Regions from separate parts of the Homo sapiens genome. Here regions 2 and 3 are each linked to region 1. A link means that fine-mapping ties the variant in region 1 to the expression of a gene that starts in the linked region. Tissue or cell type: whole blood. Region 1 holds a variant in brackets; each other region holds the start of a gene. All regions are shown on one strand. Distances are between the middles of the regions.

Region 1 (8,157 bases):
TCCGTCTCAAAAACAAACAAACAAACAAAATTAACTGGGAGTGGTAGTGCGTGCCGGTAGTCCTAGCTAATCTGGTGGCTGAGGCATGAGAATCGCTTGAACCTGGGAGGCAGAGGTTGCAGTGTGCCGAGATGGCACCACTGCACTCCATCTTGGGCGACAGAGCAAGACTCTGTCTCAAAATAATAATAATAATACTAACAATAACAACAACGATAATAAAATACAGCTAAGTATAAGCAAGAGCTTTTTAGCTGCACTGATCTAAATACAGTATTTTACATGTATCATCTCATTTACATTCACAGCTACTTTATAAGGTAGATACTGTTATCCTTCCCCACTTTATAGGGATGGGAGCAAAGAGAAGTGATTAAATAACTTAGCCTTGGTCACAGAGCTAATAAGGACAGCAACCAAAGCAGGCCATCTGCAGAGCCAGTAGCCTTCACGCCACCTTCCTCTCTTACCATACCTGTCACCTCCCCTACTGGTTCACAAAGAGGCCTGGATGAGCAAAAGGCATTGCACAAATATTAGCAATTTTACTCTTTGGTGACCGCACTTGATTGAAATGGAAAACTTTGATTCTGTTCAATGCCAAAAAAAAAAAAATCAAATTAACCAATACATCTAGATCCGAGAGAATTTACACATAATTTAGGAAAATCATTCCCTTGGGTTCTAGTAACAACAAGTACTCTGCACTGTTCATTAAGATAACATATACTGCTGATAACACAAAACACAAATAAACTTTTTTTTTTTTTTTTTTTTTTTTACCATCTCTGACTTTCTCTTTCCAGGTTAGCACTCAGGATTTTGATTTGTTGCTGATACACTGTTTTTGTTGCTCTAAAAAGAAAAACATATTGGATTTTGCATTTATGGGAGCTGTTAGAATATACAATAGACTCTATACGCATAATTTGTATGCTCAGTAAGGCTATAGTCTAATTGGGAGACAAAATAAGCCTTGTGAAACAACTAAACATTTCAGTGGCAGACTGATAGACAATTGCAATTCTATGTTAGTGCAAACTGATTCTGCAACGGTTGTGGTGAATAGCCAAGGATAGAGAAGAGATTTCTGGGGAGGCAACTGATGAAGGGTTACTAGAGGTTAATGTTTCTCAGAGGGAGGAATGTGGATTGCCAGAATGGAGGTGCAATCTTACCAAGGAAAGGGTGTCATCATTTGCAAATACAGAGGGAAGGAACAGCAAGTCAGGCCTCTGCTATGACTTAAGTTAGGCTTGCTGTATACAGAGGACATGAAGGAAAGAATAACCCTATGACACAAGAGGAAGTAAGGTCAACACATTGTTGAGGAACTCCAGACCCTAGATTGAGCTCTGATTTGATATAATATACAATTCAGAAAGCCAATATAGTTTCTTGAACTGGGGAAAAGTACTAACTAAGGATAGAAGATTTTCTTGTGGTAGGATGGATGGAAATGTGAAGATTCCAACATAGGTAACAGAAGCCTTTATTTTTATCCCCAGCCCCGCCTTTTCCCTATTAAGTGATTCTTGGACAGAAATGAATTGAAAGCCACATAAGTAAAATGCTGCTTTATATCTTTTGAAAGAAATATTCACAAATGAAACTTAGAATAGGAAACACTCTTAAATAAACTAGAAACATACCTGTTCTCGTGTTTCTTTGTCTGTTTGAAACTGTAGTATGGACTCTCAATTTCCTACCAAAATAAATCTAATATCCTCCTCTGGATCTCTAAGGGTCTTCACAATTCACCCCAACCTTACTGATTTTGTTTATTTACATATTTAATGTAATCCATAAAGAACTTGAACCAGTTTAAAATAAAGCAACAATAATATAAAAAAATCCTAAATGGATAATAACATTGGGCCACAAATTTGGCTTTGAGATTCCTGGTGACCAGAGCAATTATGCACAGTAACTGACTATAAAATTTGCATTATTCATGAGGAACATAAAACCTGATTCAGTCCAAATCGATCTTCCTCCTCTTTTATTAGTAGTTCGTAGTTTTCCTTATGAAGCTGACATAATTGGAAACAGATGTTTGAATATATTATTTAACAATATGGGGACAACCATTCAAGCAAGGAACCTATGCTTCCTGTCACATTCCAGATATCTGTTGGTATGTGCTTGAATTTTCATCACCCCCTACCTTAGTTCTATAAGCTGGCTTCTTGATTGTCCTATATTTAAATCATGTGTCTCCCTTTGTGTGGTGATATCATTCTCCCATACAATGAGCACAGAAAAATCTGACTTGCTTTTAAAGGTCTAGTTCAAATTTTAAATCCTATATAACGAAGGACTCCTTGATTTCACTTTCATGCCCGACTGTTTTATATAATTCACTGTCATACATGGTTTATTTTTCACCATCATATGTGGTTCATTAATTATTTCATATGTGTTAGTCTTGCTTCTCTGCCCAACTGAACTATAAGCTCCTTATGCTCAGTCTTAATGTGTACAATGGTAGAATATTTACATAGGTCATTTTGACAATCATTATAAAAGTGAAAAATATGCATCCTCCTTTGATCCAGCACTTCAACTTTTAGGACTTTATTACAAAAAAAAAGTCATATGGGTAGAGAGAGATATGTTAACTTCAAATATTTGTAATATAGGCAACAGACAAAAGTAAATCTCCATCAATAGAGTGCTGGTTAAATACAGTATAGTATAATGTGTATTATACTATAATCTGCATAGAATACTATGCAGTTAGAGAAAAGATTGAGATATATTGAGAATATATATATATTCTCTTTGTTTTGAAATAGTTTTAAACTCAACAGGTAAGCATAAAAAAATAGTACAAAGAATTCCCATATATCCTTCACCAAATTCTCCAACTGTTAACATTTTACCTTATTTGTTTTATCATCCTCCTAGGTATAATTTTAAGTGGAACAAATTCAGTTATAGTAGAGTATAATCCAATTTTTGGATACATACATATAAATATATATTTGAAAGCATATATTGTAAACTGTTAACAGTGATTATGCCTGTGGAGAGATGGAGATTTTAGGGTAACTTTTATTCTCTAAGTTATGCATTTTATATATGAATTTTAAAATCATGTACAGGTATTATTTTTTAATCAGAAAAAAATTAAAATTAAAATGACTTAGAATGCAGAAATGAACATCAATGGGACTCAGTGTTGTGATAATGTTCAGGCACATTCTTGTCACTGCACCCCAACTGGTCCATTCCTGGGGCCCAGGAGCTCCCATAGAATTCAGAACCTGTTTATCCTTTCAATGAAAAAGTCCATGAGAGTGACTTCCAGACTGTGAAACAGAGAGAGCTAGTTCTAAACTTCCTTTTCTGTAGTATGTTAGAAATCAACATAGATTTACTGCTATCATTTATTAAAAAATAAATGCAGAGAAAGTAAAGATAAAAAATTTCAAAGGCAACAAACATACTGTTGAAGTTCCTGGAGTGTGATGAGTCCTTCTTCCATATTTTTGATGTCTACTCTCTTTTGTGACAGAAAGTATTCTTTCTGAGAAATAAATGTCAGCTGTTTCTGATTTCTATCATGAAAAACAGAGTTATTTGTTGAAGGCTGACATAAATATGCAAACACAAATAAGAATTTCAAAAATAGTTTTGAAAGTTCAGATCATGAGCTATTTGCTACATAAATTATTAAAAAATAGAAAGCAAGTCTTTTTGCTAGTGGTAGCTAGATCTAAATTTATGCAAAGGATTTTCTTTTTTTCAAATTTTTTCCCAGCTGATTTTTGTACTTTTGTAGAGATGGGGTTTCCCTGTGTTGCCCAGGCTGGTATCAAATGCCTGGTCTTATGCGATTGGTCCATGTTGGCCTCCCAAAGTGCTGGATTACAGGCGTGAGCCACTGTGCCCAGCATACACATAGGATTTTCATAAAATTTATGAAAATTCCCAAGCCACTGAAAGAATATTCACCACAATAGTAACCACAAAACAACAAGAACAGTTGTGTAGTGCTCCATGTCTCTGAGTGGGTGTGTCTCTCCTAACGTGCTTATCAATTCTGTCATGTTCTTCCATGGAAGGTGAAGGAGTCAGTCAGATTAATTTTGCATATTGGCTCTACCTTTTAATAAGAGTGTGATCTTAAGCTAACAATTAGCTTCACCTGTGAATAAGCTTCAGTTTCACCAGCTATAAAATGAGAATTACAATGCCTAGCTCAACGGATGAATGAATTTAATAAGATGTAAAGTGCTCCTCTCAGCGTGTGGATTGATAAGGGTTTTTTTTGTTTGTTTTGTTTTGAGACGGAGTCTGGCTCTTGTC[G/A]CCCAGGCCAGAGTGCAATGGTATGATCTTAGCTTACTGTAACCTCCGCCTCCTGGGTTGAAGCGATTCTCCTGCCTCAGCTTTCAGAGTAGCTGGGATTACAAGCACCCGCCACCATGCCCAGCTAATTTTTTGTATTTTTAGTAGAGATGGGGTTTCAAGTAGTTATTTTTTTGTCTCAAATTGCAGGAGAAAATAATGAGGCTCAGAGAAGTTTATAGTCTTGTTCAAATGCCCAGCTATTGATAGGAAGCTGCCTGTATCAGAAAGTATTTTATCTAAGTGACTCATCTTCCAAACTGCTGTGGACTGAATTGTGCCTCCCCCATCTCCAGAATTTATCTGTTGAAATGCTAACCCCCAACATGATGAAGAAATAGAGAGATTTGGGTAATTTTTACTCTCTAAGCTATACATTTCTATATTTGAATTTAAAAATCAAGTACAGGCATTGCTTTTTTCATGAGAAAAAATTAAAATTTAAAGTGCTTTAGAATGGCAGAAAGGAACATTGTGGGGCATTAGTGTCGTGATAATGCTCGAGCATATTATAAAGATGGGGCCTTTGGGGAAGTGATTAGGTTTGGATGAGGACATGAGGGTGGGACCTTATAAAAGAAAGACACCAGACAGACAGCATGTTCTCTCTCCACCCTGTGAAGACACAGAGAGAAAGCGGCTGGGTGGCTGTAAGCTAGAAAAGGGCCCTCACTCAGACTTCCAGCCTCCAGAACCGTGAGAAAATCAATTTCTGTTGCTTAAGCAGCCAGTCTATGGTATTTTGTTATGGCAGCCTGAGCTGCTGAGACAGAAACCAGTAATGATAGCAAATGTTTTCATTTTTGTCAATAGATTTTAAAACTAGGATAAGTTTAAGTGGAGAGCCACCACTTTGATAGCAAGAAAAGCACCCCATAATGATGGCATGTTGAATCACACGTGTGGGTAAAGACATACTCATCATGAATCTTTTGTTTTTGCAAAAAAGCTTTTTCTTCCTCACTTAAAACAATCTTATATTGTCTGGCAAGAGTTTTCATTTTCTCTCGTAGGTCTTTGTATTCCATACGAGCAGCATGCAGTGTTTCAACCAGCTAGAGAAAAACAAAGGAGGTGAATGAGAGGACTGGCTTCACTGCTCCTCTGAGGCCATCTGCATCAGGTGGCAACTCGGAGAGCACCTGGGATATTGCTTAGCCCACCGTGAATATGCCATAAATGCCGAGTGATTTAATTCTATAGCAAACATACAACTGTATATTTTGAGACCTCTACTATAAATTTTTTTAAGTATAGAAAAATAGTAAACCCTGCTGCAAAACCATAGAGTAATAATCCATATTGAAATGCAAAATGGGATGAATAAACTGTGACTGCTGAGCAACGTTAGTATGTCCTTTTCCAGAATATAAACTATAGAAAATGTAACATCCTCAGAAGCTCTTCCTCAAAACATTTTTGAGTTGATATTATGCTTGCTTCTTGTGAAATATTTCTATTTGAGGACAAAAAATAGTACCCACCAGTGTTCTACATGAGATCAGAATTTTTTGCTTATTAAATTGCTTCAAACGAGGTAAGAAAGTCAAGTTTAGCGGAAACAATGGGCTGAATAGTTCAAAACAACCTTCTATCTGAGGACAACTAAAATAGCTACATGAAAAAATATTTGTAGAAGTGTTGAAGAACTCACAAGATAACAAAGAATTATTCAAAAAACAAAAATAGAATTACTATTCAACCCAGCAATCCCATTACTGAGTATATACCCAAAGGAAAATAAATTAATCTACCGAAAGGATACCTGTGCTCATGTTTATTGCTGCACTATTCAGAATAGCAAAGACATGGAATCAACCCAGGTGCCCATGAACAGTGGATTGGATAAAGAAAATGTGGTAATAATACACCATGGAACATTATGCAGCCATAAAAAAGAATGAAATCATATCCTTTCTAGCAACATGGGTGCACCTAGAGGCCATTATCCTAAGTGGATTAATGCAGAAGCAGAAAATGAAATACTGCATATTCTCATTTATAAGTAGGAGCTAAATATTAGGTATACATGGACACAAAGATGGGAACAATAGACACTGGGACTCCAAAAAGATGGAGGGAAGAAGTGGGGAAGGGTTGGAAAACTACCTATTGGGTATTATGTTCACTACTTGGGTGACGGGATCATTAGCAGCCCAAATCTCAGCATTATGCAATATACCCTTGTAATAAACCTGCACATGTGCTTGAATCTAAAAAAATAAAAATAAAAAATAAAGGATAATAGGTGATTGCTAGGCCTAATTCTAGGAGAATGAAGAATCCAGAGCGGTAAGGCTAGCACTTAAAATTCCTCTGCCTTGAAAACACTTACTAACATAGAAGAAACCACTTGAAAACCAAGTTTTGGGTTTTTTTGCATGGCAAGTGGAACAAAAGCCAACATGTAATGCTCATCCAGGTGTTGAGCCTACATAAACCTCCCACTATTTTAGTCTGGGATTCCAAAGAGCTTCACCCTTTGGAAGGCTGAGGCAGGAGGATTGCTTGAGACTGGGAGGTCCGAGGCTGCAGTGAGCCATGATCATACCACTGCACTCTAGTCTGGGTGACAGAGTGAGATCCTGTCTCAAAAATAAATAAATAAATAAATAAAAAAGAATGCACAATTAAAAGATGAACAAATATCTAGAGCTTCTCAACATTTGAGTAAAATCAATACTGTAAAACAAAGCAATCAAAATCTACTATAGGCCAGGTGTGGTGGCTCGTGCCTGTAATCCTAGCACTTTGAGAGGCGGAGGTGGGAGGATCACTTGAGCCCAGGAGTTAGAGACCAGCCTGGGCAACACAGGGAGAATAGGACAAAAGAAACAGGTGAGGACATAATGGCTGAAAATTTTGCAGAACTTATGAAATATAGAAATTCTCAGATTTAAGAAGCCAAATAAATCCCAAGGAGGAAAAATGAAAAGAAAATTTGGACACATCATAGTGCAACTGAACAGCTAAGGCAAAGGGAACAAAGAAGATCTAAAACAAAAGACATATGCCATGTTAACGGATTGGAAGCCTCAATACTGTGAAAATGTGAAACCCTCTTCAAACTGATTTACAGATTTAACACAATCCCAATCAAAATCCAAACAGGTTTTTTGGAAGAACGTGACAAAATTGAAAAGGTCAAGAATAGCTGGAACACTTTTGAAGAACAAAGGTGAAGGATTTATACCACTGGCCATAAAAACTCATTTTAAAGGTACTAATTAAGACAATATTGTTTTAGTGTGAGGAGAGATGAATAGTTCAAATGAATAGAGTCAACAATCCACATATACATTTATGATCTATACTTGATTTATGACAATAGTATGACCACAATGTAGTGAAGGAAAGGATTGTATTTTCAGTAAATGGTGCTGGTTAATTGGACAACCTTATGGAAAAATATGAATCTTGACCACTATCTCAAAGCACATACACATAAATTCCAGATGGTTCGTAGTCTTAAATGTGAAAGGTCAAACAACAAAGCTTCTCAATGGTAACAGAAGAGAATAGTCTCATGACATAGGACATAGAGAACATTAACTAAAAAGATTGATAAACTGGACTTCATTAAAATTAATAAATTATATTCATCAAAAATATGTACATAAATATTGTATATTTATGGTTTATGTATTGTTCTGTAATGTGTAATATTTTATAATAACAAAGCTAAATCCAACAATGCCACTGCTGGGTATATATCCCAAGGAAATGAAATCAGTATGGCAAAGAGATATCTGTACTTCTATGTTCATTGCAGCACTATTCAGAGTAGCTAAGATGTAGAATCAA
Region 2 (8,157 bases), 33 kb after region 1:
CTATAAAAATATGCTTAGGTATAAAAAAAATGGTTTTCTCATACACACCTACAAACCCAAACAAGTAGGTAAAGCTGTTATTATTACTTTTAGCTGAGGCTACTTTAAGAAAGGAAACACTGCTAAGAAATCAGTTGGTGGGAAAAAATAGATAAATCATCTTTTAAATAAACTGTCATAATAGCTATAGCTATTTTATGACCTGAGAAACTGCCATTATATTTTATGAATTATAAAAAGCAGACTATATAATTACATATATAGCATCATCACTTTTCTGTAAAAAATGAAATTCAATGCAGTTATCACCTATACCCTGAAAATAGAAAGTATATTCATCAGCATTAATAGTGATTATTTTAATGTGGTCCTTTTGCTTATCTATTTTTTCTTAATTTTTCAAAGTCAACATGTATTACTTTTAAAAATAAAAGGATTGATCTGGTTTTTTGTTTTTTTGTTTTTTTTTTTTTTGAGATGGAATCTCACTCTGTTGACCAGTCTGGAGTGCAGTGGGTCAATCTCAGCTCACTGTAACCTCTGCCTCCTGGTTTCAAGCAATTCTCCTACAAGCCTCCCAAGTAGCTAGGATTACAGGCTCCCGCCACCTTGCCAGGCTAATTTTTGTATTTTTAGTAGAGATGGAGTTTCACCATGTCTCGGCCAGGCTAGTCTCAGACTCCTGACCTCAAGTGATCCACCCATCCTGGCCTCCCGGAGTGCTGGGATTACAGGCGTGAGCCACCATACCCAGCCTGATCTCTGTTGTTTAAGAGATTTCACGGCTCAGATATTAAATGAATACAGACTAGATACTTTAACCACAATAAATATTTTGGCCTCTTAAAATCCTAGCGAAAGACATAACTGAAAGAAAGAACCAAGCAGGGAAAAATGTTTTCACAGCACCACAGAGCTGCACAACACACATGATCCCTCAGTGTTTACGTGTACCTACTCAAGTAGGATTGTAAAGTATGATTATGTAGTATAGATATATATATGTGTATAATTATATAAAATATAAAGTAGTAAGAGTTTTATCAGCAGTCTGTGGATTCAAACTCATTTACAGCCATATTTCAACATTTTTAGCAATTTGATATGTAGTAAATTCTTATCCAATATTTTTAAATAAAATGGAGAGCCTTCACTACTCTGACTGTGCCAAGGAAGCATTGTCAATGTGATCCTTGGCCGAACAGAGATGTCTGTGACACCTCAGAAGGAAATTCTTTAAATATTTCTTCAACATGTCTTTGATAGGGGCCAGTTAAGTGTAATTGAAAGAGTTTCTCTTTGTTTTCACTAACAGTACCGTCTACTTCAGTGGAACATATGTCAAATAATCTTTGACCAGTTATGCAAGGAATTGCTTACAGAGAACTGAGTTAATTAGCACCATGCTTGCAATTTATTCCAGAGATTGTGTGTTTGTTTGTTTTAAGCAATGCTTATATATTGGTGTCCCAAGCATTTGCCCATGTGGTCCACCTCTTAACTGAACCGTATTATCACCCACATTGCTTTCTCTAAATGAGCTTGCCCTCATCCACAGCCATAAGCCCATAATTTAGTTTTCTTCATGGAAAATCAAGTAACAATCCACAGTTGATCAATAATTGTGCAAATCCTTACAAAATTGAGAGAAAAATATTTTTAAGTTCAGGGTAACTATATTCCCTAGTCATCTACTTAATACTTTGAACAGAATTGGTGCGAAATGAAAGTTTGAAGAAATATGTGGAAGATTGAAGAAATGGTTCTTATAGATAATACAATACCAATTTCTTAACAGCTACAGCAATGTCCTTAAGAAAGATCTTAGCTTCTTCATTACATTTAAAATAGTCACTTTGCAGTGATTGTTCTGAAAAAAAAATTAGAAAATAAAGATCTCTTATTTATCTATCCAAATCCTACTTAACCTTTTATGATCTAGCTCAAATGCTTACTCGGCTGGAAGTTACATCTTCAGTCTCTGAATTTTTATTGTACATTACACTAATCTCTTTTGTACTTATTTCCTATTCCATAATGTTATAATTTAGGTATATATTTTATGCTCCTTGAGGACAAATGTGCTGGAGATTTACATATTAATATTTTATAACTCAGGGCAAGAGGGTGTAATGATTTTTTTTTCCTATGAAATATGTTCTGAGTGTCTAGACATTAACAGAAAAATGTATTTGTACATAAGTACTAGGGTTGCATTGGCATGCCGATCTAGAGATCAAGTATGAAAAGAGTTCAAGGTTCTAGGTCTGTCATTGACAGTGACCTCAGATACATGTGAATAATTTAGGTCTTAATAACTTTAGGTCTCCTCAGTGGGTAACATTCCTTTTTTTTTTTTTTTTTTTTTTGAGACGGAGTCTCGCTCTGTCGCGCAGGCTGGAGTGCAGTGGCACCATCTCGGCTCACCACAACCTCTGCCTTCTGAGTTCAACGGATTCTCCTGCCTCAGCCTCCCGAGTAGCTGGGATTACAGACGTGCGTCACCACGCCCGGCTAATTTTTGTATTTTTAGTAGAGACGGGGTTTCACCATGTTGGCCAGGCTGGTCTCAAACTCCTGACCTCAGGTATCCACCCGCCTCGGCCTCCCAAAGTGCTGGGATTACAGACATGAGCCACCGCGCCCGGCCAACATTCTTCATGATAACATTTACCCAAGCATATTTGCTAAGAATTGTGAAATTAACCTAGCGCATTTAAGAAGGAAAATAAAAACTATCCCAAATTAATAGTAACATTGTAACATAAATCAATACGATTATCTTGAAGAAATGGGATGATTCTAGTGAAGCACTGAAATGTTTTGTTGTTTGGCCTAAACGGTTTTTGCACCGAACAAGAAACACCCTTTCTTGGATTGTCTTACCTTAAGCTTAAGTGACTTGATTACAGGTTCAGCTTTCTAACTGAAAAATACTTTAACCTGGCCCTATCCAAGGTCATTTTCTATTAGAATCTCCTAAACAACCCTTTACATCTAATTTTTCTTGCTCAACACAACAGAAGCCTCTTAAACACTCCCTTTCCTATTTGCTTGTTAAATTCTCCAGTTTGCCACGGCAAAATGTCGGAGGAAGTTAACTTGTAAAGGAACGGCAAGAAGAGAACTGAAATCGAAGGCATAATCTAAATGCAGGTGTGTAATCAGGTCGCAGGCATAGGGCAGTGGCTTGGGAGTCCCGGATTTGTCACCTCAGTAATTTAACTACTACTGAGGGTTGAGCGAAGTCACCTCAGCTGCGCTAGGGCAGGAGATCTGGGCACTTGGTCCCACCCGCCACCTCTCTCTCCCCAGCCTCCAAGGAGCGGGGAGAAGGCTCTGCCCTGCCCAGTGATGCCCTGGTTCCGGGAGGAGAGTCCCCGCTCAGGGTTCCCGCTGAGTGCCTCCTAAGCGCCACCTCTGAGGAGACGTCCCTTCCAGCGCCCGAGGGGCGTCTTACCCACAACAAACAGCTGCTCCAGCGCCTCGACCGCGACCGAGGAGCCCAGGGTGGAGGGTAAGGTGCATAACTCCAGGGAGGGGCCAGTGGAGACGGCAGCCGCCTGCACCAGCTTCTCGCCAGCGCCCAGCCCTGGGGTCCAGGGGCTCAGGGCCATTTTGCCGCTCTACTTGAGCGCCTCCTAAGCCAGAGCCAAGGATTGCCGGTTGCCACGGGCAACGAGGACACCGAGGTCGTGGGGCGCCCCCTCGTGGCCCGCACCTCTAGTAGGTACCCTCCTGGTTCTCTAATTTTATCCACGATAATTAAGCAGTCTGGGAAGAATGACTCTCTCTTTAGCTAATTTTTCCCCTTTCAATTTCCATTGCGTTAGTTCAGGCCTGTATCTTTTTTGTGGGCCACTGGAATCATAATAATGATCACTTTTGAGCGCATCTTTGTGCCGGATACTGCAGGAGAACCTTTATATACAGTAGCTCACTTAATCTTCACAAGGACTTTGTGAGCAGGCTCTTTTAGTACCTCCACTTTTACAGACACGTAAACTGAGGCGCGGGCGACTAAATGAACGGCTCAAGACCACAAGAGGATAATATTGGATTTAAAGTGACGTCTGGGCCGGGCGAGGTGGCTCACGCCTGTAGTCCCAGCACTTTGGGAGGCCAAGGCGGGAGGATCACCTGTGGTCATGAATTCAAAACCAGCCTAATCAACATGGTGAAACCCCATCTCTACTAAAAATACAAAAATTAGCCGGGCGTGGTGGCGCGTGCCTGTAGTCCCAGCTACTCAGGAGGCTGAGGCAGGACAATCGCTTGAACCCGGGAGGAAAAGGTTATAGTGAACCGAGATCTCGCCATTGCACTCCAGCCTGGGCGACAAGAGCTAAACTCCATCTCAAAATAATAAAATAAAATAATAAAGTGAAGTCTGTATGACTCTTTCTACTATGCTACAAAACCTTCTTTTGTACTAATTTAGAACTTTCCTTGTATCTAGTACATCACTGAGCACATTTTGCCTTGAATCATAGTGATTTTTCTCTGTCTTCCCATCGAACTGTGAGCTCTGTGATGACGGGGACAGGAGGATATTATTCATTTTTCTCTGCATCTCCAAAATTCAGCTTAGCATGAGGCTTAGGTTGAGTCTGTCAGTTCCTTTTCCTCTGGTGGGTTAGAGAGAAGCAAAGGTGATTCAACCCTCCTCTTCTTTTCTCTACAGATGGCAAAATTGAAATTAGAATGATAGTAACAATGACAATAGCTATCAATTGTTAAATGCTTATTTTGTTCCAGGCACTGTTTTAAATACTTTGCAGTACCCCATTTAACCCTCACAAATAATCTTTTGAGCTAGGTATTATTGCCTGCTTTGCAAGTGAGGGCACTGAGCTACATCCTAAACCACTGTGCAACACTGCCTTGGAGGGGACACAGCATACCAGTAGCAGAACTAGTTCTAGAATCCAGGCCTCCTTCATCCAGGGAGTGCCATATTTTGGTGTTGGAAACCATCCTGGACAACATCCTCCTTTTTTGCTGGATTTGGTCTATTGGTATTCAAATCTGTTCCTGCCCTTCTGGGCCCTCCTCTGTGTGGCAGGAGTAAGAAGACTGGATATGAAATTTCCTGGATGTCCTTGCCACCTGTTTTCTTGGTAAGTTCCACTAATGGGAAACACTTGAGGGAGATTAGAAGGCCGAGAAATCATGCATTTCTGCCTCCAGAAGTGGTAGTTTCAGGCTACAGTTGACTGTAGGTCCCAGCAGTTTTGGTGGCTCTAGAAGTGGCAGGAGTAGGAGCCAAGTGACTCCAGCAGTCTCCAGCTGCTCAGCACTATATGTGAGCTTGTGCGTACAGTACAGGTGTTATGGCAGCTCTGATGTCTGGGGTCTTCTTTATCTTCTTACCCTTTGGCTTCTATACCCCTTGTAACAAATTCCTTGTGATATACTTCTCTCTTCTGGAAATATCTAGACTGGACTACTTCAAGGCAACCCTTAAGCTGTCACCAGAAGACTCTTCTTACATATCGCATCATTTGGATCACATTGCTCTCCATTATCTATGAATAAAGGCTAATCTTAAGGGGGCATTTTGTGTCCTCCCCACTTACTGGATTTGTTACAGATTTTCTTACATTTCTCTATTTCCCTTCATGTCTCTAATACTTTCTTTTTCCCTGAACTTTGTGAGAAAGTTACATGTACATACACATACATATGTATAAAGTGGGAAAAGCAAGTTGAAAAAGAAACGTACAGTATTCAATTAATATTTAATTTTTATAAATTAAATATTTTGTGAGAGATGATCAGCTTCTAACTTGTCTCATGGTTCCTTTTATATGGGATGCCCTGTACAAAATTCAACCACAATTTTTCAAAGGAAACTTTATAAATTCTGAAATAGAAATCTAGGCAAACAACATGAATCATCACTTAATAAAAGAAAAAAAATTCCGAGAAACATACGGAAAGAACATTTACCCTCATTAGCATTCAAAGAAAAATAATACTCTCATTTTCTCATAATATTAAGATTAAAAAGAATAATACTTCAAAGTATTGACACTGGGAATATGCATACTATCTGAAGGACAATTTGGAAATTTGTGTAAGGAGCCTTGACATACAGTAATTCTTCTAAGAATTGTTCTTAAAGAAATAATCACAGGTTTGTCCATGGGCATAGGTATGAACTTGTTTATTGCAGTCCTGTTTTAAATACTGAAAAATAGCCCAAATGATCTACAGTAGGACACTGTTGTTAAGTAATTTATGGGACATCCATGCAGTGGAACAATCTAGAAGGCAATCCGCCATGTGGTTAAGAGCTTGGGTTCTGGTGGATTTAAATGCGTTCCACTACTGATTGGATGGAGTATCTCCTGAGACAGCCTCCCAGCTCATGCTGCCAGTGTCTCAGCTCTAAAGGGGTGGTGACGGTGATAGGAGTTCTCAGTTCATAGGATTGTTCAAAGGATTAAATTAAGTGAGCACATGGTAGATACTTAAAAAACACTAATGATAAAGTAATAATAGGGTACCTATTAAGAATAATGGGTAGAAATTTACATGTACATACACATACATATGTATAAAGTGGGAAAAGCAAGTTGAAAAAGAAATGTACAGTATTCAATTAATATTTAATTTTTACAAGTCCATATATCTATAGAGATGTATATAGGTATATCTCTATAAACATATGCATAGAAAATGGTCTGAGAAGAATTGTTCACTAAAATGTTACCTGTAGTTATTCCTGGTTAGTGAAATTATAGATGTAATAGGTAAAATAATGCCTCCTCAAAATGTCCACATCCTAATCCCTGAGACTTGTGAATATATTAGGTTACCTGGTAAGGGGTAATTAAGGTTGTAGAGGAAACTAAGATTGTTAATCAGTAAACTCCGAGATGAGGAAAGTAGCCTAGATTGTCCAGGTGGGCCCAATGTAATCACAAGAGTTGTTTTTTTTGTTGTTGTTTTTTGTTTTTTTTTTGAGACGGAGTCTCACTCTTGTCACCCAGGCTGGAGTGCAGTGGCGCCATCTTGGCTCCCTGCAACCTCCGCCTCCTGGGTTCAAGTGATTCTCCTGCCTCAGCCTCCTGAGTAGCTAGGATTACAGGCACCCGCCACCACGCCCAGCTAATTTTTGTATTTTTAGTAGAGATGGGGTTTCCCTGTGTTTCCCAGGCTGGTCTTGAACTCCTGACCTTAGGTGATCCGTCTGCCTTGGCCTCCCAAAGTGCTGGGATTACAGGCATGAACCACTGCGCCTGGCCACAAGAGTTCTTATAACTGAAAGGTGGAGGCAGGAGAGTCAATATCAAAGTCAGAGAAAGATTTGAAGATGCTAAGCCGCTAGTTTTGAAGATGGAGGAAGGGGACCATGAACCAAGGAATGCAGGTGGTCTCTGGAAACTAGAAAAGGCAAGGAAACAGATTCTCCCTTAGACCCTCCAGAGAGAATTCAGCCTTGCTGACATCTTGATTTTCACTAAGAAAGACTCATTTTGAACTTCTGACCTCCAAAATGGTAAAACAATACATTTAAGTATTGTTTTACTTTTAAATTTGCTTTACTTAAAACAATAAATTTGTATTGTTTTAAGCCACTAAGTTTGTGGTAATTTGTAACAGCAGCCATAGGAAACTTTAGAAATAATGGACACATAAAAAAAGATTTCTCAGCCTTCACTACTTACAGCTGGTGTGCACTTGGCCAAAATGCATGTCCTTTTCTCATGTATTTTTACTTTGGTAACACAAACAGATACATTTATCTTTCAGGCAGTATTTTAAAGAGGACTTTTGCTGAACAGCCAGTATGACATTGAGAATCCTCCAGTCTGGTGCTGACATAGATTTTTAGTTATCATAAAGCAAGTTTGTTTCTGTTTAGCCCTTGCTGCTGTTAGAGCCAGGGAAAGAACCCAACTGATCCTTGGAGTTTGGCCCCTAACTTGCACAGGAATGAATACGATCATATGTTCTGGCAGGTTTGCAGTCTCTGTATGTGAGGTCTATATCGTATTTGATGATAACATTGCTTTTACAGCATCTTTGCATAAATCTAGTATCTCTAGGCAAAGTCTAAACTCCTTGGGCCTAGACCCTGAGTTAGATCAAGGCAAGGTTCCATTCTTGGTAGTTGGGTCAAACATCTCACATATAGAAAGTGGTTGC
Region 3 (8,157 bases), 330 kb after region 1:
TTATCAGTTTAGACATGAAGTTGTAACTTTAGAAGACAGTGTTATTTTGATGAGACTATTTCCACGCCACAAAAGGGACAGAAGCAATGAGAACACCTGAAAATAGAGGATTGATGGAGTTTTATGGTGCAGTTTTAATAATGTTTAAACTTATATTCATTCCAGGACACTGCTGAGACATATTTTTGGAAATGTTCCTGGGATAATTTTAATTACCATCAATGTATAAAAATAAATAACAGAATATCTGTCCAGATGGCATGATTGGTGATGTTTTTCAGAAAAACAGTTATTAAAACATCAATATCTGTCTTATATTTCCATCTAAAAAAGAAACAAAATCTGTTTACAGTGCATCACACTCAAAGTCTAAGTTACTTCTTAGTTTGAGTTGAGTCCCAAAAAAGCACCACTCTTTTAAAAAAATAAAGCACTCTTCTGCCATGTGGGGACACAGTGAAAAGACAGCTGTGTGTGGACCAGGAAGCAGACCCTGACCAGACACCAAATCTACCTTGATCTTAGATTTCTCAGCTTCTAGCACTGTGAGAAAATAAATTTCTGTTTATAAGCCAAAAAAAAGTAAATTAAGAAATACAGTGTAAAGTAGTGTGCTTAATAGGCATCTCTGATACAATTGAGGGCTCACCTGCTAACTTTGCTTATAGCAATAGAACTGCCAAAATAACAGACCAGGAAGCTGGACAAGATTTGTTTGGAATTTTAAGATCTAGTTATTTATTTATACAGCATTTCTGGCGTTTGAGTCTCTTATAGCAGCACATCCGGTCTACTTAATAAGAAACACAGAGATTTAAGACATTAACCAATCAACAACTATATCAGAAATTCCTTCTAGCCACAATCATAAACTAAAAAATTTCTATATAAATATGCAAAATATGTGCTCCTTCCATCTTTCTTCATTCTTCTCCCATCCAAACGTAGTATCATGTTTGATTTTATTACTATATTTGTTGCCTAGGATAGAAAACCCCAAACACATTCAATAAAGCAAGGTATTTCTATAATAATAATACTAAAAATGCAAAATGCATTGTTATTTACTACAGCCACCTTTCTGTAACAATGCACTGTACATTTTGAAATTGCTAAAAGAGTAAATTTTAAACGCTTTTACCACAAAAAAAAAGTACATGAGATGATGGATTTGTTAGCTAATCATTTGACAATGCAGACATATGTCAAAACATCACACTGTACCCCACAAATATATATTCTAAGCATTTCCTATATAATAACTTTTGTGGATATGTTACTGAGCATGGGGCACTTAGCTTCCTTTTTCTAGTTCACATAATCTTAGTGGCACTAATAGGAGGTGGGTAATGTTTCATAAAGAAACAATTTACTTTGATTACAGTGGATAAAGATTCTGAACTATGAGCAGTCTATCCTCAACAAAGAATGGTAAAGACAAAAACTACCTTCCTTTGTCTATTATCATTTGCCATCTTCTTTTGCAATTATAAAGAGTTTTGTTTTCACTTGGATGCAGAAGTTGAAAGAGAGACTGAGCAGCCATTCTTAGATTTAAATCCTCCCCCACTCCTAGGGATATAATAATTAATATATAACCTTTGGCGTTTGGCGTTGGGGCTTTTGAGTACTTTTCTTTCTTTCTTTTTCTTTTTTCTTATATAGGGTCTCCACTTTTTCTCTTCCTTTCAGGATATTGACAATTTTTATTCAACGCATTCTCCAAACCTCTTTTCCCCAGCTCAGATCTTCTGTACCAGGGCAGTTAATTACGATTACCTTAGACATTCCACATAACCCTTAAGAGAAGCTTACGAAAAGGGGTTTCTTTAAATCAACCACCAAGAGCACACACACCAGTCCCACTCCCCTTCCCCTCCTCTGGGAGCACCCCCCACCCCAGGCCTTCTAGCTCTACATTGCCAAAACTACACAACTCCCACTCCACCATAGCAAAGCTTTCTCAGGAAAGAGCACCACACAGCATCCCCTTTCCTCTCCCTGGAAACAGCGTTAACCAGGCCGGCAGCCTCAAAGCGCGCTTCCTGGATCCTTTGACCAGGATGCGCCAGGGGCCTGGGCTCCCGCTGGACACTGGCGCGCTCAGACTTTGAATAGGGCGTCAGGCGAAGAATGGCCAAACCCAGGGCAATTTCCGGGGTGGGGGGGGGGGGGCGCTTAGACTGCTGGTAAACTGTACCACGTCCACTCACCACCACCCAAGCCCTCCAACCCACAGCCAGGCCCGCCGCACTTAGGACTTGAAGTTTCAATGCTCCCTGCAAGGTGGGGCCATCCGGGCAGCGGCGAAATACAGGTTTTGGGCGGGGGCAGCCACAGCACCCAACCCTCTTGCAAAGCTGTGCCTCCCGAATTAGGGACAAACTCCCTGGGATTTGTTTTCTGCGGGAGAAAAGGCGGAGGGATGTGGGGGGAGTAAGGTGTGGTGGCGATTCGTGGAGGGCAAGGGTAAGGGGCAGTTACAGCCACATCTCTGCCCTGGACAGAGCCGGGTCCAGGGGCCGCGGGCCTGCCCGCCGCTCGGTTGTCAGCATCTCCTGTAGCCGGCGCGCACACTGCGCGCAAACACGCCCCCCAAAATCCCCACAACCTGTCAAACGGGCCCTACAGCTCGGAGCCTCCTGGCAGGAGGGAGAAACTTGTACCCAGACTCGCCAGCAGCCAGAATGCTGCTGTTTGCCTATGAGAACAATTTTTAAAGCGGAAATAATCATGATAATGAAATAAAAGGATCAAAAGCATCTTGACTTTTTCTGAGCCTTTGGGAAAAATAAAATTGTTGTTTTCTACCAGCCCGCGAATATTCCCAGTCGCCCGTGGCGACGCGGGGGTGGGGTCGGCGCTCAAGGCAGAAAGCGCGAGGCAGGTGCCCAGGAGAGCCGCGCAGAAGGGGACTGACTGGGGGGCCCTGGTCCCCGACGCCATTTGAGGGGCAGCGGCGCCCGCCTTACCTGTGGATGCAGTTTCCATGGCAACGGGCGACTGCCGGGCGGGGCCCGAGCCGGCTTCCCGCGACGCCGCTTCCCGGGCCCTGGCGCCCAACCCCGGGCTGGGCTCCCCAGCCTGCGGCGCCGGCGTGGCCCCTTTCGGCGTCACCGCTTCGTTCTCCCCCTCCCCCCGGTGCCTGAGCCACTGGGACCCGGGGCCGGCCAGCGGCAGCAGCTCGTCCTGCGGATCCCCCGGCGCGGCCATGGCTGGCGGTCCCCCGGCGCGGCGACGGCGGCTTGGCTGGGCAGAGGCTCGGTGGCTGCGCGGGCGCTCCCTGCTGCTGTCCCCGGAGGGACTCGGCGCTCAGGGAAGCTGCGGTGTCTCAGCGTCGCCGCCGCCTCTGCTGCAACTCCGCCGAGCCGCTGCCTGCCGCTCTTCCCGCTTCAGCTCCTCCTTCTCCCCCCTCCTCTTCCTCCGGCCCCGCCGCGGCCGCTGCCTGCGCTCCTCCTCCTACTCCACTCGCTGCTGCCGCCGCTGCTTCGCTATTCCCAATCCTGTTATTACGCAGGTGAAAATGGCCTGCTTGGTCCGGGTCCTCCTGGGCACGTCAGCCCCCAACCTGCAAATGGCAGGCCCCGGTTAGGGGATGTGCCAAATCCACTCGAATCTTCCTCTCGTTTGGGGAGGAAAAAAAAGGAAGAACCAGCAAGTAGCAGCAGCCACCAGCAGCGTCGCCTTCCCAACTGAGAAAGTTAAGCCCCGACTGGTGTCCTGGGTCCCGAGGCAAAGAGGGAAAGCTAGAGAACTCAGGGCCACAGTTCTGAGAGTGACCAGTATGAGTTGTGGAGGGGACACAGGTCTGAACGGGGAAGGGGTGGAGATGGGTTCTGATGGCAGATGGAGACCAGGGAAGCTGCAACCCCGCGGTTAAATCCTGCGTTTCCAGAATGGGCCTGAAAATAGTGGAGTAAAGAAATGAGTTATCAGGACAGCCTCCAAAAAAAGCTTAACAGATCTCACCCTGACCAGCCCTGAGGGCAAACAGGGTGTCAATAGGCAAGGACAAAAGCTGTACATTTGCTTTCAGAAACACTGAGCCAAGGCCATCCTAATCATAAGCTGTCTGTGCAGTCCGTTGTATTTCAGAATTTGGACATTCCATGAAGCTTGCATCTTTTTCTTTACAGTTCACTGTGATAAAATGGAAGATAGTCAGCAAATAAACCCAAACTCAGAGGAGGAAAGTGACTTGCCTTATCATATGTTGTGCCCATACGAAGACCCATCTTTTCAAATGTCTTGTGTTTTATTGGTTCCCAAGTTGTTTATATAATAAAATAATGTGCCTTTAAAAACTAAGATTCACCACAACACACAGGGTGAAGGAATAGGTTTTTCTGCTGTTTCTTCTCTAGGAAAGGTGGGCGCAGACGGTACCGCACACACTGTGAGACTGTGGGACTCTTGGCCACCATGCGCATCTTGAGGATTTCATACCTGTCCATTGGTATATTCAAAGGCCAACTTCAGGACCATTCAGGTGCTCCTCAATAATGCTAAAATGAAAAAGCCCAGAGTCTGCCTAATCTTTTGTTCTGCTAGTGCACTAATGTTCAAAAGATGACAATAAATTAGAGAAAAATCATTCACTAAACAATAAATATGGCCTCCTGAAGCCAGATATCCCTGGAAATCTGATGGTCACCAAAATTTTACATTTTTGACATACTCAAAATTATGTCTCATGATGGAAATATTCACTATCTAGATTGTGGTTATAGCTTCACAGGTGCAAACATATGTCAAAACTTATTGTTTACTGTAAATATGAACAATTTAATGTGTTGTCAGTTATAACTCAATAAATCTATAAAAATAATCTCATCCAAAAACAACAAAATAATTGGTTATCATGAATCATAATGATTTTTAAACATCTTTCCATGGGAAAACAAGAGTGTATTTAAAAAACCGTTAAGTTGAAAAGCTTATTCCACTGCTGTATTTCCATGGAGCTTAATCCTGTCTTGTAATTAGAGGGCACTTGTAAGTTTTTTCAAATCTATTACTTAGTATTCCCTAAAGCATCAGAAATACTAGATGGGAATTTCTCATGGTTTTATTACTGATAACAAGACAAGAACATAGACAATTCTAATGATATAACCTTAAAGTGGTTATTGATGAATACTAATATTTGAGAATTGCTATGCAAAGGAGTTACATACAAAATAATATGAAGTATATTCTTTTGTTTCTCTGAGAAACATGAATGAAAGTCATCATTAAAAAACTGGGAGACCTAAGCAAGCCTCTGTGTTTCCTTATGATTAATAGATAGGAAGTTTGGGGATATGATTCTAATTATTTGTCAATTTCTTTCATACTAATCAATACTCTCATTGAGAATGTGTGAAGGAAATAGCCAGTTAAATCTATTTAGAGTGTAGTTGTTAAAGGAAATTGAACATTATTGACAGTTCCATTTTGATAAAGTATTCTATTTTACACTGCTGAAAAGAGATGAGCACAAGATTTCAGTGTTAGCAATTTTCATTACTAACTTTCCTTATTAGACTCCACCTTTGGATGTATAAAAATTATCTATTTGGGGGAAGAAATTTTCAGGTTTATGCTATGACTTGAAATGATTCATGTTTATTAATATTATTTATTTTGCACCGCTCTGAACTGACAAAGCTTGACTAATTTGAAGATTTATGGGCAAAACACACAGTCGGCAATGGGATTCTGGGGCTTACATAGTTGCTCTAAGTTACGAATTACTCTAAAATGCTTTTCAGACACAGAGAAAATAGGATTGTCACTTTTAAAAGGTTCTTAGCAAGAAGAGTTGAGACAAAAGAACTGTCACGTTTTGTTTTCAGCTTTTGTTTTTTGGAAAAGAAGTTTTGTTCATCATTTGAAAAGAAGAAATGAGGAGCATTTATTTAGCACTAGCTTCTTAACTTAGTCCAAACCATATATCATGGGGAAACACGGTGTGGGGACATGCAGGAAGAGCGCCACAAGTAACAAGCTTTAACCAAGATGAAATTCTTTCCAGCCTCAATATTAAAGTTACCTAACATCTCTACAACCCAGGTTCCTCAACTGTAACCTGGAGATTTTTTTTAAAATTTTTGTGGGTGGGTACATAGTAGGTGTATATATTTATGGGGTATATGAGATATTTTAATACAGGCATACAATGAATAATAATCATATCATGGTAAATAAGGTATCCATCACCTCAAGCTTTTATCCTTTCTTTGTGTTACAAACAATCCGATTATAATCTTTTTGTTGTTTTGAAATATAAAATAAATTATTGTTGACTGTAGGTGCCCCATTGTGCCAGTGAATACTAGATCTTATTCACTCGTATCTAACTATATTTTTATATCTACCATTAACTGTCCCACCTCCATGCCCCTCAGGCCCCTGCCAGCCTCCCAGCACTACACTTCTTGGCCTCTGGGAAACCGTTCTACTCTCTATCTCCATGAATTCAACTGTTTTAATTTTAATTTACCACACATAAGTGAGAACATAAGAAGTTTGTCTTTCTGTGCTTGGCTTATATCACTTAACAGATGTCCTCCAGTTCCATCCATGTTGTGCAAATGACAGGATCTCATTCTTTTTTATGACTGAATAATAGTCCATTGTGTATATGTACCACATTTTCTTTATCCATTTGTCTCTTGATGAACACATGGGTTGCTTCCAAATTTTGGCTAGTGTGAATAATATAGTGCTGTGATAAACGTTGGAGTGCAGATATCTCTTCAATATACTTTTGCTTTCTTTTGGGTATATACCCAACAAACAAACAAAAACAAGAAAACATTGAAACACTGGGGAAACTCTCCAGGATATTGGTTTGGGCAAGCATTTCTAGAGTAATGCCCCATAAGCACAGGCAACCAAAGCAAAAATGGACAAATGGGATCACATCAAGTTAAAAATCTTCTGCACAGCAAAAGAAACAACTAAGTGAAGAGACAACCCACAGAATAAGAGAATAAAATTGCAAATTATCCATCTGACAAGGGATTAATAACCATAATATATAAAAAACTGGGATTGCTGGATCATATGGTAGCTCTAGTTTTTTTAATTGGAGTCAGATGACATCTCATTGTAGTTCTGATTTGCATTTCTCTAATGATCAATGATATTGAGCACCTTTTCATATGTCTGTTTGCTATTTATTTGTATGTCTTCTTTTGAGTAATGTCTATTTAGATATTTTGCCCATTTTTAATTGGATCATTATATTTTTTCTTAATAGAGCTATTTGAGCTCGTTATATATTATGGTTATTAATCCCTTGTCAGATGGATAATTTGCAATTTTTTTCTCTTATTCTGTGGGTTGTCTCTTCACTTAGTTGTTTCTTTTGCTGTGCAGAAGATTTTTAACTTGATGTGATCCCATTTGTCCATTTTTGCTTTGGTTGCCTGTGCTTATGGGGTATTACTCTAGAAATCTTTGCCCAGACCAATATCCTTGAGACTTTCCCCAATGTTTCAATGTTTTCTTGTTTTTGTTTGTTTGTTTGTTTGAGACTGAGTCTTGGTCTGTCACCCAGGGTGGAGTGCAGTGGCGTGATCTTGGCTCACTGCAACCTCCACCTCCCAGGCTCAAGCAAATCTCTTACCTCTGCCTCTCGAGTAGCTGGGATTACAGGTGCCTGCCACCATGCCTGGCTAATTTTTGTGTTTTTAGTAGAGACGAGGTTTCACTATGTTGGCCAGGCTGGTCTTGAACTCCTGACCTCAAGTGATCCGCCCATCTCCGCCTCCCAAAGTGCTGGGATTACAGGTATGAGCCACCACATCTATTTGGCCCCCAGTGTTTTCTTTTAATGGTTTCCTAGCTTGAGGTCTTCAGTATAAGTCTTTCATCTATTTTGATTTGATTTTTGTATACAACAAGAGTTAGGGGTCTAGTTTCATTCTTTTGCATATGAATGTAATGTTGTCCCAGAACTATTTTTATTAAAGAGACTGTCCTTTCCCCAGTGTGTGTTCTTGGCACCTTTTTCAAAAATGAATTCACTGCAGATTAATGGATTTGTTTCTGGCTTCTCTACTCTGTTCCATTGGTCTATTTTTTTTTATGCCAGTACCATGCTGGCATGGTTTTGGTTACTATAGCTCTGTAGTACAATTCGAAGTAGGTAATGTGATTCTTCCAGTT

Evidence for each region. PIP is the estimated chance that this variant, and not a neighbour inherited with it, causes the effect.
Region 2: it holds the start of CCDC175, and the variant in region 1 is fine-mapped to the expression of CCDC175 in whole blood (INTERVAL, PIP 0.94).
Region 3: it holds the start of RTN1, and the variant in region 1 is fine-mapped to the expression of RTN1 in whole blood (INTERVAL, PIP above 0.99).

Annotation. Positions count from the first base shown.
Region 1 is chr14:59,539,892-59,548,048 of GRCh38, forward strand. It overlaps CCDC175 (coiled-coil domain containing 175), which reads right to left. Exons shown (of 20, transcript NM_001164399.2): 9 at 5,272-5,408; 10 at 3,453-3,563; 11 at 784-855. Among named protein-coding and RNA genes, the nearest start is that of CCDC175, 33 kb to the right of the region's middle. The variant G/A (reference allele first, on the strand shown) is at 4,315.
Region 2 is chr14:59,573,159-59,581,315 of GRCh38, forward strand. It overlaps CCDC175 (coiled-coil domain containing 175), which reads right to left and starts at 3,654. Exons shown (of 20, transcript NM_001164399.2): 1 at 3,461-3,654; 2 at 1,785-1,870. The coding sequence starts at 3,617.
Region 3 is chr14:59,867,418-59,875,574 of GRCh38, forward strand. RTN1 (reticulon 1) reads right to left here and starts at 3,359. Exons shown (of 9, transcript NM_021136.3): 1 at 2,973-3,359. The coding sequence starts at 3,213. RefSeq lists a silencer at 3,268-3,367.